Homo sapiens: one gene and its partners. The protein of the gene in region 3 interacts with the protein of the main gene of each other region in a biochemical or structural test. Each region holds a gene or a part of one and is shown on either strand. Other genes may lie near its edges.

Evidence for each region. The genes of interacting proteins can lie anywhere in the genome.
Region 1: the proteins of APLP1 (region 3) and CNTN3 form a complex in vitro, tested with the Homo sapiens proteins (one study listed by IntAct).
Region 2: the proteins of APLP1 (region 3) and CNTN5 form a complex in vitro, tested with the Homo sapiens proteins (one study listed by IntAct).

What each region holds. Positions count from the first base shown.
Region 1 is NC_000003.12:74,366,659-74,373,685, reverse strand, and holds part of CNTN3 (contactin-3 precursor), read left to right. Parts: intron 1-2,286; coding exon 2,287-2,490; intron 2,491-3,694; coding exon 3,695-3,797; intron 3,798-4,312; coding exon 4,313-4,497; intron 4,498-7,027. UniProt on the Homo sapiens protein: Contactins mediate cell surface interactions during nervous system development. Has some neurite outgrowth-promoting activity.
Region 2 is NC_000011.10:99,016,795-99,023,949, forward strand, and holds the start of CNTN5 (contactin-5 isoform 1 precursor), read left to right. Parts: upstream 1-4,154; 5' UTR 4,155-4,476; intron 4,477-7,155.
Region 3 is NC_000019.10:35,871,567-35,878,593, reverse strand, and holds part of APLP1 (amyloid beta precursor like protein 1 isoform 1 precursor), read right to left. Parts: intron 6,983-7,027; coding exon 6,849-6,982; intron 6,737-6,848; coding exon 6,558-6,736; intron 6,112-6,557; coding exon 5,981-6,111; intron 4,956-5,980; coding exon 4,881-4,955; intron 4,091-4,880; coding exon 3,932-4,090; intron 3,854-3,931; coding exon 3,725-3,853; intron 2,078-3,724; coding exon 1,978-2,077; intron 877-1,977; coding exon 769-876; intron 513-768; coding exon 486-512; intron 11-485; coding exon 1-10. UniProt on the Homo sapiens protein: May play a role in postsynaptic function. The C-terminal gamma-secretase processed fragment, ALID1, activates transcription activation through APBB1 (Fe65) binding. Couples to JIP signal transduction through C-terminal binding.

The DNA.
Region 1 (7,027 bases), on a different chromosome or scaffold from region 3:
GTTGAACATTTTCAATCAGAATTATATTTGTGATATTTATTCCAAGTGTTGCATGGAGTTATTGTTCATATATTCTTATTACTGTATAATATTATCTTGCATGAATTCACCAGATTTTAGGTTTTCTGACTCTGAGTCAGAGTTCTTTTTCTCAACCATTCTTTTTGGTATAAACTGGGTTAATAGGATTGACTTTTTATTCCTAATGCCCTGCTAAGGCCTGCTATATTGGAGAACAGTAGATATCTGGCTGGGTAAAAGGGAGAAGGACAACCTTGTTAGTTTCATGTGTGGAACACTTTGGAAAGCAGAGAAAGATTGCTTTCCCTCCTTTACTGCAAAGTGAGGTTGCCGGAGCAGCAGGAAGACCCTGAAGGGCTCTTGCTACAACAGCTGCCAGTTTTAACAACTGCAGAACAAACTCAACCTACCTTGCTAGTATTATTTTCCTCTATGGTTTATTCAATACTATTGCAAGAGAAAAGCATCATCAGGATAGGCCTGAGAATAACCATAATGTTTGAGATGCATTTGTTTCATACAACCCGATAAGTGACTTTAGAGCTCACAACTTATCACATGACTGACTGAAATTTCATGAAACATTATACCAATATGACAGCATGATTTAAAGATCAGTTTGAGGTTAAAACCAATGTTTCTGGATGTCTGTATAATTTGCAATTGGCTTGCTAATTTTTGGAAACATCAAGCATTTGCATTTGCATCGTGAATGGGAATTAGTCATCATGTTTTATTTCTTCTAGGTCCTTAGCATGTTCTCTTCTCTGCTGGCCTTTTCTCATGTTCTTCACTCTACTTGGAGTGCTTTTATCCCTGCTTGTTGGGGTGTTCTCCTGTCCTTTAAGGCCTGTTCTTCAGCCATGAAAGAATGGCACCTGTCCTTCCTCTAAAACTCATGGGAGCTCTCATCTAACCCTTCTCCTTATCTCATTGTTATTTGCATATTGATTTACTGTTCCCTTTACCAAAAAGAAAGACCTTCACCATAGGAATTATCTCTTAAATATATTTAAACTTGTTATTCATTAAATTTATTTTGATTCCATGTTTTCCAAAAGTTTTTTTTTTTTTAAACTCTATTGGGAAAGCACTACAGTAATGAATCAATACAGTAGAGTTAATGCAACTAAGAGAAAATAGGGCTCAGGAAAGCAGGAAGCCAATAAGCCAACCACAGTAACCGTGCTTAAATCTCAACTTGGCACTGAACAACCTGGGCCTCCAGAACAAAGTGGCATATTATTATCTAGCCCTCATTATCATAAAAGAGAAGAACAATGGTTCCTTTGCAGAAAACTGATTCACCTTGGCCATAAAGTTCAAGAAAACTCTCATACTGTACTTTACATAGATGTTAGTCAGTAGCATAATTGTATCCTTAACTAACTCCATGAATCTTTATTGAGGCCCTACTAAGTGCCTTTGAGTGTTTCATTTTGCTAATTTGGAGGAGGGGGAAGGGCAGGTGAAATAAAAACTAACATCGCTTGTTTAACAAGTGATAGGAGGACAGACAAGTAAGCAGAATGTTACATACTGATAAGCGTTTTAGTTGAAATAAGCTTAGAATTACTCTGTATAGGAGCATCAACCCAGAGAAGGAGGATTAAAGGAGAGTTCACTTGAGGAGGTGATTCCTGATGTTGGAACCAAGCTTTGAAAACCATTTGAAGGTTATCTCAAAGAATGTGGTTGGTGTTGAAAGTAGAGAAAGCCAAAGACAGGACAGAGACAACAGGAGTTGTAGGCCCCAGAAGCAGCACGTGCAAAAGACTCAGGGACAAAAGAGAGCATGGGGCTTCTCCGAGGCTAAGGTTTTGAGCAGGACCTTAACCATGAAGGGCCTCATATTCAGGTTAAGCAATTTTGCATGATGCCTGAGAGGTTAAAGAACTTCGCCAAGTTTGATGTCAGGAATTGACATGATTAGATTGTTAATTTTGAAATATCATGGTAGAGGCAGGATGGAGATATGAACTAAAACTGAGCAAGACCAGAGAAGCTTGTTAGAAGGTGTCTGAAGCAGAGATATTATGACAGTAATAATATTGCTCCCACCAGGATGCTAATCAACGGTGTCCTCTATAATAATAAAGAATAAATTGAGAGTTATTTCACTTAACTGCTTCTCTTCATGGCCTGCAACAAAAACACTCAGCACTACTTGGAAGTAAAGTTGATGTTTGTATAGATACATTAAGGACACAATGGAAAACTGTCCTTAATGATGGAATTTCTTTCTCTCTTCAACAATTTTATTAGAACTGTCATATGCTTGGATCTTCAATGAATACCCATCGTTTGTTGAAGAAGATAGTCGGAGATTTGTCTCCCAGGAGACAGGGCACCTCTACATATCTAAGGTGGAGCCGTCTGATGTGGGAAATTACACATGTGTGGTGACAAGTATGGTGACAAATGCCCGAGTGCTGGGCTCTCCAACTCCTTTGGTGCTACGTTCTGATGGTAATGAAACTTCTCCAAGTGCACTTCTGAGCGTAAATGGTGCTGAGGCTGCAAACAAAAGCAATTGGGAAAATGTAAAAAGTACATCTAGAAGAATTGTCACTTCATGTTTTTTGGCACAGACTATTTTATGAGTACAATGACAAAAATGATTTGATAACTCATAGTCCTTATGCATAATTCTTACCCCGGGCAAGCTTCATAATTTGCAGGGACCAGTGCAAAGTAAAAATGAGTGGCCCCTTTTTCAAAAATCATTAAGAATTTTAAGACAGCAATGGCAAAGACTTATACCAAGCATGAGACCCTTCTGAGCCCGGGGCTCGGGTTGCACTCCCATGAAGTCACCTGTCCTGACTTTTGCCAGCTTGAGGTTTTTAAAGCTCTGGATATTTTGTTATAGGCTAAAAATCATCACTAAAGAAACCATTAAAGAAAAATATCTGTTTCATCAACACCTTGATGGCTGTTTAAGGGGAGTCTATGAGCTGCCGAGGAAGCAGATCCGTAAGCCTGGGTAGTTGACCCATTTACACAAAACCATATCTGATACAGCATAATGCTATGACCACAAAGCATTGAAGCACTTTTTTCCAGTCAGTTATAATTGAATTTGACCTTTCCCATTTATTAAGTCATTGTTTCTTAACTCCAGGGAGCCATTTAATAAGTTTAAGATTGGTATCTCTGCTACTAGGGTATCATTAAGTAAATTCCCTGCCATAATTTTTGTTCTTTAGGGAAATTTCAGGAAGCAATAATATATTATATATTTCAGTTTGACTAGCAATGTCAAAATTGAATACACAATTTCAAAGCCTCCCATTTTGTGTAATGTAAAGGCTCAGTGGTTTTCTTGGAACTGCTCTGTACGTGGTAACCTATGAATCAGCAAATCCAAAGTTCTTAAATGTTTATTAATATTGCATGTTTGACCCAAGTTAGTTCAGGTTTTTTAAAGCTCTGGATGTTTTGTTAGAGGCTAAAAAGCACCACTAAAAAAATTATTAAAGAAAAAATCTGTTTCATCAACAACTTGATGGCTGTTAAAAGGGAATCTGAGCTGCATAGACTAAATTTTATTTAATTGAAATCACTAGAAGAGCTGGTTCAAAATGGGAGCAAAAGAAAGTTTTATTTAAGAAAAACGAGGCAATTCTAAAGGAAATATTGAAACGATTAACTTTATATTGTGGATTTATAGGTGTGATGGGTGAATATGAACCTAAAATAGAAGTTCAGTTTCCAGAAACTCTTCCAGCAGCTAAAGGTTCGACTGTGAAATTGGAATGTTTTGCCCTTGGAAAGTAAGTTTTATAACATTTACTCCTATGTGCTGAAATATTAGGTTGCTATAAGAAATCAGGATGGTTTTTGAGAGACTCTTCTTTTTTATTTTCTAAAATTTACTTTCATTTTGAGGCAAAGGAAAAACAAAATGCAGGGGAAATGCACATATAAAATTGAGTTTGAAACTTTAATATTCAAAGTCGATTTGAAGAAAATTACTCTGCCTGCCGAATTTCATAAAATAAATTGGTGGGTTTTTTTTTTTCTTGTTCATTTGCTGTAATCTAATATGGTGGGTCTGTATTAGGCTTTTTTCTCGAAATCATGTCAAGAAAAATGCAGTTTATTTTATTAAAATATCAACTTAAAGAGTTAAGTTAAATCTTTTTTATCAGGTTTATATAATTGACCATTGAAAGTGGTTTTCTGCATTTAAAATCCTGTGCCTTCTTGTTCAATCTTAAAAGCTTTATTTTCTCAAGTTGAAAAGGCTTCCAGACAATAGCAGACAACTTGACGATTTTCTTCTTAGTCCCATACCTCAGATTAATTGGAGAAGAAGTGATGGGCTGCCATTTTCCAGCAAAATTAAATTAAGGAAGTTCAGTGGTGTGCTTGAAATCCCCAACTTCCAACAGGAAGATGCAGGTTCCTATGAATGCATTGCTGAGAATTCACGAGGAAAAAATGTTGCCAGAGGGCGTCTCACTTACTATGGTGAGCATCTGCTTTGGGCAAATTGGAGTTTTAGCTTTTACTTTCTCATCTATAAAATATGGTTGTTATTTAGGGGTGAGAGATTATAGCAGAATCCCAATGTTCAACTTGTTGGTTAAACATTTTGTTAAGTGATGATAAACATTGATCATAGGGGGAATTAAAAAGAAATAAATTTTTGTAATGAAGTTGGCGACATAATATATTCATTTTGCATTTTAAAATGATTCATGCAAAGATAAAATATTTCATATTTTTTTCCTAAGAATAACCTCTCACACACTTAAACACATTAGAGAGAGATCTCTTTTCTGTCTGTCTTCTCCTCTAGAAAACAGGTTTTGTATCTTTCTTTGTTACCTCTACTAAAGAGAAAAAAAAAAAACTGCCTTTTGGGAAAAGTTGCAATTACTGTATTAAACAAACCACGTGAACTCTGGCTCTTGTTGAGTTCTTCAGTGTTATTCTATCCCTTCCAATAATGTATCTGTACTCTGTTTGCTGCCTTTAATTTGCAATCACTTTTATTTGATGTACTGCTCAATTTGGGTAAGGAAGGAATAATAATGTCACCTTTATTTAGAGTCTATTTGTAGGAAAATTAGATTGCCTTTTTTTGAAATTTTTTTCAAACCTCTTATTTTAAGAAAACTAGGTTTTTGATGAAAACATGACTTAGAATAAATATATAATTTTTCAAAACGGATTTATAAAATATATGGAGACGTATATATTCAGCTCAGTGAATATATATTTGCACTTTAATCATTAGAAACATCGCAAAACTAGTGGGAATTGACCACTCTTGTCAAAGGTAAATTGCATTATATTCTATTTATTTTAGAATTTGGAAATTGAAACATCTTGCAACACGTCCTTGGATAGCATATGTGCATGTTGCAAGGAAGAAAAGTTTGCAAAGGCAAATACTAAAATTGTAGGTCTTATGACACCCCGCCTTGAAAAATATGAAGTCTACCAGTGCATTACTTCTGGCACGATTAACACTTGTTATTATATTGTAAGATTTTAGGATCTGTCAGAAACAAAATGGAGGCATTGTTTGGTAGCATGAGTCATTCTGTTTTGTAACTCTCCCATCTTGTTGCTTGATTAGTTTAGAATGTATATAGCACAGAACTTACCCAGGTTTCAAGGTCTTTGGGTTCCTAGGATTCTATGGAAATAGGGGGTGAGGGAGCAAGCACTTAACCCATGTGGCTGTCCAGCTCTAAGGCCCCAACAAAGCAAGTAACCTTTTCTCATACTCTAGCTTAGTTCCTTCTTTCTGCGCAACCACTACTTGATCTAGGATAAGAAGTGACCATTATGGGAACACACCGGATATTCCAACTGTATTAATGTTTTAGTAGAAATATTTTTAGCTCTATATAACAGAAACCCTGTATACATAATAAACAATTGTATGCTTCATATGATGAGGAAATCCAAAGCTAAATTGTCATTTAATTACCTTATCATCAGGCCACGACCCAGTTTCTTTGTGATTACTTTTTCTGCCCTTGTCTATTTTTTTTTTCCTTTTCTGCATGTTAGTTTCCATTATGATCACAAAATGGCTGCCAGCAGTGACTAGCACATCAGTTGTTACTCATCCTTCCTTTCTCCAAAACATCTAGAAGTCCTCTCCTCAAACCTCACTGGCTACATGGTTCATTCCTAAACCAATCAGTGGCAAGGAGAAATTAGATTAGACAATTAAGTGCTTCACTTTGGAACAGAGAATAATGTCATGTTTCTATAGACAATGTGAGGTGATGGAAGAGTGGACAACTGAATTAAAAATTGGTGTTATTTTAGGAATAAGGAAGAGAGGAAATGAATGCACAATAGAAAACCAACAGTGTCTGCTCTACTTAGTAAAAGAGGTAGACTATTGCTTTAGTCCATTGTGTAGGTAATATGATACATACCTAAAAAATAAATCAGAAATTAATGGCATAAAGCATTTCATGAAAGTTGCCTTACAATTTCTATTTAACATCAATATATTAAGTAGAGGCCATGCAGTTCTCTGGTTATCTGCTCTAATATTTCATGTAAAAAATAGTCTATAGAATATTTGCATCTCATATGATGGAATAAAGGGAGAAATCAGAATTGATGTGGCAGTTATGATTTCAGGATTTTTTAGTCCAGCGAATTATCCTCCCATTTGGAGAAGAAGAGTATTACTATGGGAAGCTTGTGGGATTTTTTTTTTTTTTTTAGAAACTCGGGTCTCTATAAGAGGCTGATGTGTGAGTCTATTCACAGTCATGTTCCATCTCAGGCTGATCATTCCTGAAAGAAGAAGAAAATGTGTTTTAATATAGAGAGAAGTGATTTGGTACTGAACTACACTTCATACTGAGCAAGTTATATATATATATATATATATATATATACACACACACACACACACACACGCACACACACATAAAAGAGAAAACTTAGATGAATACATTATCTGTAAAAGCTAAATAACCATAGTTTCTTTTCAGTTTCATTTATAAAAAAGTAATTTTAT
Region 2 (7,155 bases), on a different chromosome or scaffold from region 3:
CAAGAAAAAAAAATAGAAATGCATATCTAAAGGAATCTACTGGATGAAAACTAAGTAAACTTTACCTTTAAATTAGTAAGATTTCAACTTTTACTTCTATTTTCTAAAATCTTAATTAACTGCAAATGTTTATGGTTTGCATAAATAGTTGGACCAAAATGTCACAAAGGGTGAGCATAAATTCCACCTACAGGAGATTAGATATTTGCAGCTTCTGTAAGTAAGAGTTGGTACTGTGACCACCAAAAGCTTGACCACCACAGTTGAATTAGAGCTCCTCTCTCATACTTCTTAATGGTTTTGGTTGCCGATGTTATCAAGACATCCACAAAGTAGACTATGTTCTTTAGCGTTGTTTACTGAAGCAGCTGTTAAATTAATTAAGTTGGTATATTTTCCAAGTCTGATTAAGATATGTTTACTTCTGCTTTCACAAAACAGCTGTGATATGAGTACTGAGACACATCTTCTAAGAAACTCAAAATATAATTAAAATCATATTTTGTCCAGTTCAAGTAAAAGTTTACTTTTGCTTCTTCATGTGTTACTTTGCACTTATAGGGAATACTGGCATATATTGAAAATGCAAGATTTTGATTCCTTTAATTTTTATCTTAGTACTTACCCATTCACCATTATTGGTAACACATTAACATAGAGGATTAAAACATCAAAACAGAAAATGCAAATGCTAAAAGAAGCTCCAGTAGGCAAGGCAGATGATCCAAGAAAGATGACTGATCTAGACATGAATTCACCATTGGTCTGCTTCCCTACAGTTATGCTATGATTTGATGGAACATAATAATAGTTATGATCTGTTAACTAGAACCTAGAACTTATCTGAGTCAAATGAAGGGAAAGAGAAAGGAGGGCATGATTTCAATAAAAATCTGTTACACAAATAAGACAAAAGCTCAGAGGCACCTCAACTGCTACAGATGTGCTGCATCTGCTTGCTTGCCCATTGGGGACGATGAGATAAAGAGATTAAGACATTTACACAAAGATGGCTAGACAACAAGATCAGATCAGCAACATGACAGCTAGGTTGAGGTGTCATAACCATAGCATAGAGAAAGTGACCTACTGAACCACTTACCCCACTTACAAACAATGTTTTAATTAACTTAATGTACAAATGATATTTTACCAGGGTACAGGATGAGCTGGTTAATTCAAAAATGTCATTAGCATCAAACAGAGAAAACCAGTGATCTTTTAATAATGCCATTTTATTAAGAAAACAGCATTGGAATTTAATAATGGGGCATACATACTTTTATATCTTTTAAAGACAAATCTTACATCAAAACAACTATAACTTAAAATCCCATTCTCACATGTCAATAGTAGAAAATCTTGGTCATGGTATGTGAAAAGATTTGATGTTTACTTGGAAAACACAAGGTAGTTTGTTTCTTTTTAGTGGAACTCTAACAAGGAGTTTTGTTTGTTTGTTTCTTATTTTAAGCACTGTTGTTTCTCTAATTCCAGACATTGACCTGCTTAAACCTGAACACTGTGGATATAAAAGGATACAGAAGTGTACCTGATCTATAGAGCCCTTACTCTCCAAGCAGAAAATTGTAAAAATATACAGTACATAAGTTAACTCCATAACAGCAAAATTCTAAAGAAAGATGAGTCAGATAGACTAACAGTTTGTCTGTTACATATATAGATATTAATAGGGAATATATAATTGTATATTATTACAAATTAGAACATTAAAAGTCATAAAAGACATGAGAATAAATATAGTCACTCTTTCTGGGTCCTGAATGAAGTGTAGCCAGGTAACCTAGTCACCCCCAAATAATGATTGAAGTCAACATTTTAAATTTGAACTGACAGAAATAGACCTTACTATTTTTAATTAAACAGATTCAACGTTTCCTTTCTCTCCCTCTAAAGCATCAGATAACTTCGCAAGGAAAAGTGCTATTACATTATCTACTTGTTTCAAAAATATATTCACACCATAGTCTTGTGATAATATTGCTCTCTTTATAAAAAGTAGAAACATTAAAAGCTTTTATTTAGTTCTTGCTTAAGAAAGGAGAAATATTTAGTCCATTTACATCATGTAAAAGGTAAATTTTCTTGTTCATGTTAATGGTAGGAGGGCACCATGAATCATGTGACCGATAGCATTTCCTTCTTTACATTGGCTGCTAACAAAGTTAATGGCAGACCTAGCACCATTTGTAACAAAAACATCAATGCAGTTTTCTCTATAAACCTCATTTCTGGCTTCATCTTATCTCTCCTCCTATCACTTTACCGTTTGTCTTGATCTCACTGACCTACATTTTTTATTCATTTTTTTAAACTGAATAGATTTTTATAAGCCAACTTACATCCTTTCTAGGGCAAAGCTAGTTGAAAGAAATTATGTGACATAATGACTCAAAATGCCCAAATTATCGGATCATGGGTAATATAGAATGGTGTTCTAAGAAGGGAAGAGAACTTTCAGAAAGCTTTCTACACTCCCGATCCCTCTTTCAGGCTGCATGTGCTCAATTATACACTTTTAAAGGCAAAAACCTCATCGAACAATAAAAAGAATGCGTTAGAGCTCCTACACTTTGAATTTATTTTGTGATGTATTTAATGTGGTTATAAAAGTCCTGGTAGTTCTCTCTGTGAACCGACAGCCTGACAGAGGAGAAGAGCCAGTGGGGCAGAGAAAAAGCCACAGAAGGGGAATCTCCACAACGATCCCTCAGTTAACACATAAAGAAGATAACCTAGTTACTGGAAAGCAGGAACACGAATATAAAAAGTATGGAAGAGTGGAGAAGTATTAAATGCACACAAATTTGTCTTTGCTACAGAACAAGCAATCAGCCTAGATCCTGAGGATAGCGATTAAAAGCAGAGACTGGGTGTTTGTACATCATTGGATGAATGAGAAGCAGCCAAGAAACAGGAAAAGACTAATTTTAATTACCAGAAAAACTGCAAGAGAAAGAACACAGGGCTAGTGGTAGACGGCTTCCAGCTACAGGCTGCCTGGCACTGTACTCTCCTTGCCAATTAGAGCCAGTCAGACCCCATCGGGGGATTCAGTGAGCAGAAGAATCAGCGTCAGTCCAGGGTCAGGCTGCTCTCAAACACACATGAAAAACGGACACCAGCGGACACGGGGTGCGACCCTAGACTCCCATGCAGTTTCTTATACAGACACAGAGATAGAAAGCAGTACGTGGGATTTCCTTTCCATTAAATACAGGTGCAAACCACATTCTCTATGGAAATATATTGCAAAGGAAATGTTATATAATTTATTTAACAAATACCCAATTACCATCAGCCCAATCGTGGGAATTGGAAAACGACTCAAAGACTGAGAGGAAAAAAAAAAAAAAAGTAGAGAGGAGGACTGGCAGAACAATGGCACTAAAGCTGCCACACTGTGGATTTACTACCTGTGTTATTTTTCCAATTACAGCCATTGTAATATAAAAATTCCGAAAAAAAGGTTGCTGAGACCATTCCTTCGCTTTTTTTTAGAACTGAGTCAACACCCCAAATCAAAGAGAAATATAAACAGGCAGAGCCTGATAGTCCTTAGATGAAACGCGTAAGTGCAGAAACAAAAGAGAAGTGCTTCCCATTCAGGACTTAAGAAAATTCTGCAAAGTGAAAAAGTCCACTCTCAAACCGACCTAAGTGAACGCGTCAGTCTGTGCTGCTGCTGTCAGAGGTGTGAGCCGGGGACTACAGGAATCAGAGTGAAGACAGGAGCGGAGGAAGGGACTCTCGCCTGGATCTCCCGTGCCGACTCCAGCCAGCACGTTTGCTTTGTAATCTATGAATGTTAAATACGGAGGGGTTGCAGAGCAGAAACGCTCGGGGAAGGGGGGCAGGTCCTCTGTACTTAGCAGGGAAGGAAAATGCCGGTTGACTAGTGAGACGAGTGGAGAAACACAGAGCACCCTCCGGGAGGCGCACAGTTCGTTAAGCCCAGGGACATGCTCAATGAACCTTTGCAGCAAGAGGCAGTGAGGCGCTGGACGCGGGCGCCGGTGACAGCGCGGGCGGCCGGGGAGGGGCGAGGGGCCGCCCCGGGAGGACACAGCCAGTCAGAGGCGCGGGGCGCAGGGCGCGCGGACGCATTGGAGGAAAACACGCGAGCCCCAAACACACCAGCCGCAGGAGGCGCCGCACCTACTTCCCAATATAACCAACTACGGCGTGGGGGAGCGGAACTGCGAGAAGGCGGCAGCCAAAGTGCCATTAAAGCTCGGGGCGGAGAGGATGCGTTACCTGGGTCCCGTCTGCTGCGAGAGGCAGGGCAAGCTGGAGGATTCCCTCTGAATGATTAAGAACTCCGCAATTCGCCTCTGCCACAGGCTGCAAAGGACCCGAGGAACCGCTCTCTCTGAACTGTGCTGATGGGCAGGAGGATGGGAGACAGGAATTGAGAGTCACAGAGGAAGGACAGTGGAGTCTGGCATCTTATTGGTAAGTGGCTGACATTCCTTTGCCAGTGACTGCGTTCTGTGATTGTGCACTTCATCTCCCAGCCACTTAGGATTTTTGACACACTCTGTTCTGCAAAGCCATCCTTTCTTGCCATGTTGCCAGAATGTAAAAACTGTAAGATGAAGCTTTTTTAAATAAAGGAAACAAAACACGACTTTATTTCCTGCTGGGATTTTATGGCAAAAAGTTGAAACAAGAGTAAATATAACCTATTTGTATATCTCCTAATGCCACCCAAAATAAGAGTAAGCAATTCCTACACGCAAATTGCAAATTGTAAGGCAATAAATGCCAGGATAAAGTGAGGATGTTTCTACAAAAGAAACTAAATGTTTGGAAAATAGGATGCCGTTCTCAGGTACTGAATGTATGCCTTATGTTTGAGCAATGAGTTTCCGAGACTAAATAATTGGGCATCTGGCATTGCAATAACTTGTTAAAATTCAGTAGGGATGCTCTATAAGTGGAGTTCTACAAAGTTCGTGAGACTGAGAAAAACTGTATCTTGGATTATGCTGAGCTTTTTTCTAAAGGTTGTATAGGATTGTGATAGATTAAAAAATTATGTTCAGACATCCTTACCATGTTTTGTAGGGAGATATACGGAAGAGAATATCAATTTGCACATACACAAACCTGAGAATTACTCTGATGACCTGAACAATAAGTTGTTTCAACTATATTTATTTGCGAAAGAACCAGAATCCACTAAATATTTTAGAATTATATTACTTTTAAATCTTAGAACTGTTCTCCCAAGAAAAATACAATTTCATGTGGTAATTTAAATGCAGGTGAGAAGCAAAAAACTTTTAAACTGTTGTATGTTCAATGCCTTACCTACATTTCATTCATTTGTTTCTTAATTTAAAAGAGAAAATCATTTAGAGGGTCAATACTTCTACTTTGATTCTCAATTACGACTGTGGAAATAAGGATGAAAGAAGTAGATGTTCATTAGAATACTAGCATTTAAAATTATAGACAAATAGTCAAATTTAAAAATTAATGCAGATATCATCGATTACTGTTGAATTGCAACAGAATTACAGAAGTACTTATGACCATTACAGGGAGCTTAAAGGAGTTCATTATGATTAATATTGTGACTCTCAGTATTTTAAAAAATAATGATTAGGTCATTAACTGTTTTTGAAAATGCCTGTAGTCAATTTTGAGCAATTCTCATGGTTGCTTGCATATTCTCCTATTTCATGCTCAAATTATTCTAAGTTAAGTGGGGACTAGTATGCTGAGTCTTAAACTTAACAGGCATAAGTTTACTCTGACTCTAATCGAAAAGAGGTATGAGTAAGAATATGTCATATAAAACTAATGATAACAAATTAAAGATATTACATAAAAAGATCATCTAAGTCCATTAAAGGGAAAAAGGCAAAAAAAATCAGAGTTAAAGTTATAAAAAGGGAAATTCAATATAAAGAATAGAATTTGACAAATAGCTGGAGTGTGAGGGAATGATATTAAAGCCTATCTGAAAATAGAAAGTCAGTGAAATGATTATTACAAGTGCCAGTGTTTTTGCTTAGGAATTGGTGTATCCTTTAAATTATTTAAAACTTCTGAAAATTGAGAAAGGAGGAGAAAAACTGCTAATTTTAATTTCTTTCTGATTCCATAGACAACTGAACAGAAAGTTAGATTCTTAAAAGTTATATAAAAATATAATCCCATAGATTAACTAAATGCCGGACTTTGTCTATAAGTTGTGAGGCACATGCACACCAAGGTGCTTTTGGAAATACATCCAAAAAGCTACAGTTGTGGAATTTTTAAATGAATAGCTGAAATACCTGAATGTTTCTCAAGGTGAGCAGTTAGTACTTCAAGTATTAGGTGGTCTGAAACAATTCTTAGTCAGGGAGCCAACCTGAAATCAAATCATGAATCTATACATAGAATATGTTTATGTAAGATGAATCATTAAAATTAGTAGCATGTAAAAATTTACTTCAATCTTATGTGTCCAATTAAGTAGCGCTATCTGTTAGAAATGTACCAGGTTTGGCTGATATGTATTTCTTTAAATGTCTCTTTTACTTCACAGTTTAGAAAATCTTGACCACTTTCAGGGTAGAGGTAGGAGTGTGATTGTCTGTCACAGCTGACTTAGCAATATGGACCAGAGGGTGCCAGTAAAGGGCAAAGGGCCCGCATAGGCTGGCCAAAGCATTTTGGAGTTTGTCTTACTTCTAGACAAAATAAAGGCATAATTTGTGAAGATTAAAATAAAAATGATGAAAACTTCTCTAGATGGCTGTAATACTGTGAAGATGATTTGACTGTAGAGAGTTTGATTGGCTAAAACAAAGTTGTAGCAGAGTTTAGTGTCTCCTTCATCAGTCAAAAACTAATCCAGAATTTTATGAGGCTCAGATATTTACAATATTGTAATTTGCCGAATCCATTCTTTCTCATGTATCTTGATTACCTATTGTCTTTGAACTTTCTTTTAAAATACGGGTTTTTAAATTTTTACCAAGTCGTTGGAAATTTATTTCTCTTACTTTAAATAATAAACTCATACATTCATGTAGTTTGTTTTCTTGAAATTCTGACTCCAGGAGTTGATTTTATCTCTCTTTCTTCTTTCTGACAATCCAAGCATAAAGTAAGAGAGTAATATGTTTCTCACAA
Region 3 (7,027 bases):
TCTGTGGACCCTACCCCCAAGTCTGATCTCATTCTTTTTTTTTTTCTTTAGACAGAGTCTCACTCTGTCACCCAGGCTGGAGTGCAGTGGCATGATCTCAGCTCACTGCAGCCTCAACTTCCTGGGCTCCAGTGATCCTTCTACGTCAGCCTCCTGAGCAGCTGGGACTACAGACATGCCCCACCACACCCAGGTAATTTTTAAATTATTTGTAGGTACAGGGTCTCATTATGTTGCCCAGGCTGGTCTAGAACTCGTGGCCTCAAGGGATCCTCCTGCCTCAGCCTCTGAAAGTGCTAGGATTACGGGTGTGAGTCACCAGCGCCTGGCCCTATCTCATTCTTTAGGGTCCAGAGGAGGGGGCTGGAAAGTACATCAAACTCTACCCCAGGGGGTCTGAGGTTCCCAATGGATGGACCCTGTTTCCTTCTGGGTTCAGGGATTCAGTGGGATTTGGAGGCTGGGGTTAACTGTGAGACACTCACCTTTTGGAAGGGTCATGGGGGTGTCTGCTGGCAGCCAGAGGAAGCAAGGGAGTGGAACAGTGAAGAGAGGAGGGTATCAGCAAAGAAAGGTGGAGAAACATCCTTCCAGGGACTAAGAAGGAGGATTGGGGATCCTACAGAGGCCCCTGCAACCTTAGACGTTCCTCCTCATCCTCTCCCAGTCACTGTGGTGGTGAAGACACCCTCAGACTCTAGGGGATTACAAATTAGGCTGGGGCCTGTTCCCTAATGTCTGGGGTCATCTATATGTGGGCTCACTCACCATCCTTGGAATCTGGAGGCTGCAGCCCACCCTTGTCCTCGCTGCTGCCCCCAGGGGCAGGGGCTTCCAATTCACTGGGACCCAGGTGTTCAGAGTGGAGGAGTTCCTCTGAGGGGGACATGCAGAAAGGTGGCTGAGGTAGTGAGCATAGGGGTGAGTGGAGGGCACCCTACCAGTAGAGCAAGTGGGAGATCATGCAGACAGCAGAGTCAGCCCCAAGTGTGGGGTAGCCAGAAGTGTGATCTGAGAAAGTGGGAAGCTGGATGGAGGCACTGCTGGCAGGAAGGATGGAGGCTGAAGTTTCAAGATTATGTTTTTTTTTTGTTTTTTTTTTTTTGAGACAGAGTCTCACTCTTGTTGCCCAGCTGGAGTGCAATGATGCGATCTCAGCTCACTGCAACCTCCACCTCCCGGGTTCAAGCAATTCTCTTGCCTCAGCCTCCTAAGTAGCTGGGATTACAGGCAAGCGACATCATGCCCGGCTGATTTTTGTATTTTTAGTAAAGACGGGGTTTCACCATGTTGGCCAGGCTGGTCTCGAACTCCTGACCTCAAGTGATCCACCCGCCTCGGCCTCCTAAAGTGCTGGGATTATAGGCGTGAGCCACCGCGCCTCAAGATGATAGCTTTCTTAAATACTAGGAGAATCAGGGTTATGTGTGAGATATCCAGGAGAAAGACACAATAGATGTGGGGGCTGCAATAGGTCACACTTTCCGGTATGCATATAGGTTCCTTCCCTTGAATCTGGACTGAATTTGTAACTTGCTTTAACAAATAGAATGTGGGCCCAAGCCTTAAGACCTAGCAACTTCCACTGTGATGTCTTAGAGAGCATAAACCACCATGTAGGGAATCTAGCTACCCTGCTGATGAGACCACATGGAGAAGCTCCACGGAGAAGAGAGGCCTTGCGCTTCCTTGGAGAGAGAGAAAGGTCCATTTGTGCTAGACTCCCAGCCCCTAGATGATCTGCTAGCTAAATACAGCTGCATGCTTGACCACTGGCAAGACCACTGAAAGAACCACTCTGCTGAGCGCAGACCGGATGGCAGAATCATGAACAAAGAAAAATCATTGTTGATTTTCACTGCTAAGGTCTGGGCTGTTTGTTATAGAGGAATAAATGAAATTGGGGGGGCCCAACATTTAGGAGTCAAGATCTGCCCTCAGAGATCTGTAATGGGAGCCAGGGTAATAGACACTCACGGATTTGGGGCCGCAGCTCCTGAGCCAGGTGGGGGTTCTGGTCAAGCAGGCCCAGGCTCTGATTCACCCTCTCCTCAATCACTTGAAGGTGGGTATGCACCTGTGGGTGAGTGGACATGAAGGATGAACTGCGCAATGCAGGCTGGAGATGAGGAAACTGAAGCAGTATGAAGGAGGAATTCAATAGCGACTGAGGAAAAGCGGCACATGCAATGGACAGGATGTGTGGTACAAGGGTTAGGAACTGGGCCATAGGAGAAGGAAATTGAAGAATAAAGTCCAAGGAACAGAAAGTGGGGTTTGAGGGGATTCCAGAGACAGAGATTGAGGATTGGAGGGTCATATAGAAATGACATGGTTCAAGGCAAGATTTGGAGTTCAAGAGCACAGAATGGAGTTTCATAGACAGGAAGAAAACATCCAGGAAAGGGGAATTCAAATTTGAGCGCACAGAACAGGGGTTCCAGGGAAAACAAGTGAAGTTATGGAGAAAGGAGGTTGAGGGACAGGAAGAGGGTTCAAGGAACAAGAAGGAGATTCTCGACCGGGCGCGGTGGCTCATGCCTGTAATCCCAGCACTTTGGGAGGCCGAGGTAGGCAGATCACCTGAGGTCAGGAGTTTGAGACTAGCCTGGGCAACATGGCAAAACCCTGTCTCTGCTAAAAATATTAGATTGGTGCAAGTTATTGGGGTTTCTGGCCGGGCATGGTGGCTCACGCCTGTAATCCCAGCACTTTGGGAGGCCGAGGTGGGCAGATCACCTGAGGTCAGGAGTTCGAGACCAGCCTGGGCAACATGGCAAAACCCTGTCTCTGCTAAAAATATTAGATTGGTGCAAAAGTTATTGGGGTTTCTGGCTGGGCATGGTGGCTCACGCCTGTAATCCCAGCACTTTGGGAGGCCAAGGCAGGCAGATCACCTGAGGTCAGGAGTTCAAGACCAGCCTGGCCAACATGCTGAAACCCGTGTCTACCAAAAATACAAAAATTAGCTGGGGCCGGGCGTGGTGGCTCACACCTGTAATCCGAGTACTTTAGGAGGCCAAGGGTGGATCACCTGAGGTCGAGTTCAAGACCAGCCTGACCAGTATGGTGAAACCCTGTCTCTACTAAAAATACAAAAATCAGCCAGATGTGGTGACACCCGCCTGTAGTCCCAGCTACTCAGGAGGCTGAGGCAGGAGAATAGCTTGAACCCAGTAGGCGGAGGTTGCAGTGAGCCCAGATCATGTCACTGCACTCCAGCCTGGGAAACAGAGCGAGACTCTGTCAAAAAAAAAAAAAAAAATTAGCCCAGTGTGGTGGCAGGCTCCTGTAATCCCAGCTACTCGAGAGGCTGAGGCAGGAGAATTGCTTGAACCCAGGAGGTGGAAGTTGCAATGAGCCAAGATCGCACACTGCTCTCCTGCCTGGGCGACAGAGCAAGAACCTGTCTCAAAAAAAAAAAAAAAAAAAAGACGATTCTGGGAAAGGCAGTGAAAATCCAAGGGACAGAACATAGGATCGACGGCGGGGGGAGTAGGAATCCAAGGGCCAAGAAGCAGGGGTCAAAGACACAGCATGTGAGGGTCCATGTTTCAGGGTCAGGAAGCTGAGCTGAGAGACTGGGAAGGGGCAGAGAAGCGGTGTTCAGGGGATAGGAAGGGGTCCAAGAGACAGAAAGAGGGTCTAAGGGACAAGAGAAGAGCCTGAGGCGCGGGCGTCTGAGGAATAGCGGCGCATTTGGGAGCTGGAAGGATGTGAGCACCTGGAAGCGCATCTGCTGTGCCTTCTCGGGATCCACGGCGGCCACATGCTGGTAGTGGCGCAGCGTGTGCCTCTGTTCCTTCTGCTCCGCACGCAGGTAGCGCCGCAGGGCCAACAGGACACGCTCCGCCTGTGGAAGGGACACAGGATGCCCAAGCCCGCCCTGACCCTTCTCACCCTCTGCTCTCTGCCCCCACGGTCCCCGCACCTGAGGCGGATCTGCCTGCAGGGCTGCCAGGAAGCCCTCCAAGGCAGCCCGGCGCTGGTCGTTGATAAGGGCGATGACGCGGGTGGCGTGGGTTTCCACCAGGCGCTGTCGCTCACCAGACACCTGCTCCTCCAGAGTCTGCAGAATGGACTGGAAGTGCTGGGGAGCGGGTGGGCACAGGGTCAGGAGAGGAGAAGATGGGTCAAAGCCTGGTCAAAGAGAGCCTGGAAAGGCAGGGCTACATGGGGTTGGGGGGCGTTCCAGGGGTCCAGGCCTGGGCAGAACCAAAGGTTATGGACTGGAAGGGGTGGGCTACAGGGCCAGGCAGAGTGGAGGTGGGACTAGGCCCACTGGGAGCCAATGTGAGGATGTAAACTGTAAGATTGAGTGGGAGCAATCTGGGAGCAGAACTGACCAATGTTAAGGTGAAAGGGACAAAGCCTTGCAGGGCTCCTGGCCTGGGCAGGGTCAAACTGGAGACAGGCTGTGTATAAATGACACGATAGGGGTGGGACAAAGAGCTGGAATGGGGGCTAACATGAGTGGGGTCTCCATGGGGTAGGTCAGGTTAATAAAGGTGAGATTGGCCCAGCAGAGCCAGAATCAGGGGGCGGGGCCTGATAGAGACATAAATGCATCAAAGAGAGACCAAGAAGGCCCTGGCTGCATCTGCAGAGGCCCTGGCTTGGGACAGGACTCCAGAGCCAGCCCTGAGAGGCAAGTCAAGTCTGTAGATGGGGCCGAATATGGCCAATCTGGGGAGGAGAGCAGTGTCAGGTCAGATGACGGCTAAGAGGGGCAGAGCTGCATGTAGGCATGGGGCCAGGAAAGGCTGAGATAGGTGGGAAGGGGTGGAACTGGATGGGCAGGGCACAGCCAGAGCCAGGTGAAACTGAGTGTGCTCCAGGTGGTGGACAGGCATGAGTAGGACCCACTGGGGCTGTCCTACCTCATTCAGGGCCTGTCTGTCGGCTTTAGGCAGGTTCTTGGACTGGTTGTCTGCCATGGCCCATTCACGCATCACCTGCATAGGGAGGGGAGCTTCAGGATCCCAGAATCCACCCTGATCCACCTGGCAAGTCCCCCAACCCCTCTTTAAGATTTTAGAAGCCCCATGGCTGGGCGCAGTGGCTCATGCCTGTAATCCCAGCACTTTGGGAGGCCGAGGTGGGTGGATCACAAGGTCAGGAGATTGAGGCCATCCTGGCTAACATGGTGAAACCCTGTCTCTACTGAAAACAGAAAAAATTATCTGGGCGCTGTGGTGGGTACCAGTAGTCCCAGCTACTCGGGAGGCTGAGGCAGGAGAATGGCGTGAACCCAGGAGGTGGAGCTTGCAGTGAGTGGGAGATCACGTCACTGCACTCTAGCCTGGGCAACAGAGCGAAACTCTGTCTCAAAAAAAAAAAAAAAAAAAGATTTAAAGGCCCCAGATCCCTTAAGTCTCGCTGGCTCCTGGGTTCCCAAGAGGGAAGATCCAGAAGGAGTTTAAAGTGAAAGAGAGGCCAGGCGTGGTGGCTCATGCCTGTAATCCCAGCACTTTGGGAGGCCGAGGCGGGTGGATCTCCTCCCGCCGGGAGTTCAAGACCATCCTGGCCAACATGGTGAAACCCTGTCTCTACTAAAAATACAAAAATTAGCCGGGCGTGGTGGTGGGTGCCTGTAATCCCAGCTACTCAGGAGACTGAGGAAGGGGAATCGCTGGAGCCCGGGAGGCAGAGGTTGCAGTGGGCCGAGATCGCACCATTGCACTCCAGCCTGGGTGTTAAGAGCGAAACTCCGTCACAACAACAACAACAAAAGAAAAAAAAAAAAACCAATAAAGTGAAAGAGTACCATAGACCAGAGTTTCCAGAGAACCTGGTAGCGTCTCAGTGGGATTCTAGAAGGGCCATGGATCTCTGGCCATCTTAGGGGGTGGTGTTGAGAGCTCAAGGTCAAAGGGGCTTAGGGAGCCTTTGGAGGTAGTATCAATGTGTCCTGGAGGAATTTCCTGGTATTTAGGGAGCTCTGTACTGTAGGGGGTCCTGGGGCCCCCAGTATTATCACCTCATTAATCTGGCGCATCCTACGCTCCTCCAGGTCCATCTTGGCCCTCAGGAACCCCTCGTGCTCACTGATTTCCCCAGGCATGCCAAAGTAAATATCCACACCGTCTGTGGGCCTCGGGGTGGGAGTGACTGCAAGACCAGGGATCAGGAGGTCAGTCTGCAGCCCACCTCCAGGTCGCCTTTTCTACCTAGAGAACCACATTTCCTAGAGTGCACTGGAGACCATCATGCACCCAGTTTAGCCACCGCTGCTGCCTGGCATTATGGGAGATGTAGTTCTGGACTGGGCCTGTTCTTGCAAAGCTTAGGAATCCATTACACCATCTTCCAAGCTTTCCTGAAATGATCCTCAAGACCTACCCAATGGCCCCTCTACTCCCAAGTACCCCCAAACCACCCCCTCCCTTGGCAGGTTAGCCCTTCTACTTCTATTTTATCCAAAGATACTCTCGTCTTTTCTCCTCAGTTGGGCCTTTCCCCTATAGGCCCCTCCCAAAGACACCCCCCAGCAAGACTCCCCCAGATCTTTCTCCCTCTATGGTGGAGAGGCCCCAGGGGTTCAGAGACTGCCTCACCTTTGCCGACCACTGCAAGTGTATGGGAGCTTGGGGGTGGGACCGTTTCCTCTTCCTCTTCAGCCTGCGGAGGCTCCACGAAGTAATCATCTACTGGCTGTGGGAAGGATTCCTCCTCTTCCTCGTCCTCAGCCCCCTCTACTCTGCTCCCCGGGGGCCAGGACCGGGTGGAGGGGTCACTGAGGGAGCAGGAGAGGACCCAGGCAGTAAGAACCCAGGCCTGGGCTCCCAGGCTTCCATCCCCTGCCTCAGGAACCTTGAGATGGGCATGGAGGGTTCCCTCCCACTCACCCAACTGCTGTCCCAGATGGGTCGGGGGTCCCTGGAGGGGGACAGCACACATACTCCACACCACGGAACCGATCCGAGCCACAGGGTAAGAGCATGCCCGAGCCGTGCAGGATGAGGCCCTGGGAGCTGCAGGCCTGTAGGAAGAGTGGGCCCAGATGCCAGGATTGTGGGATGGGAGG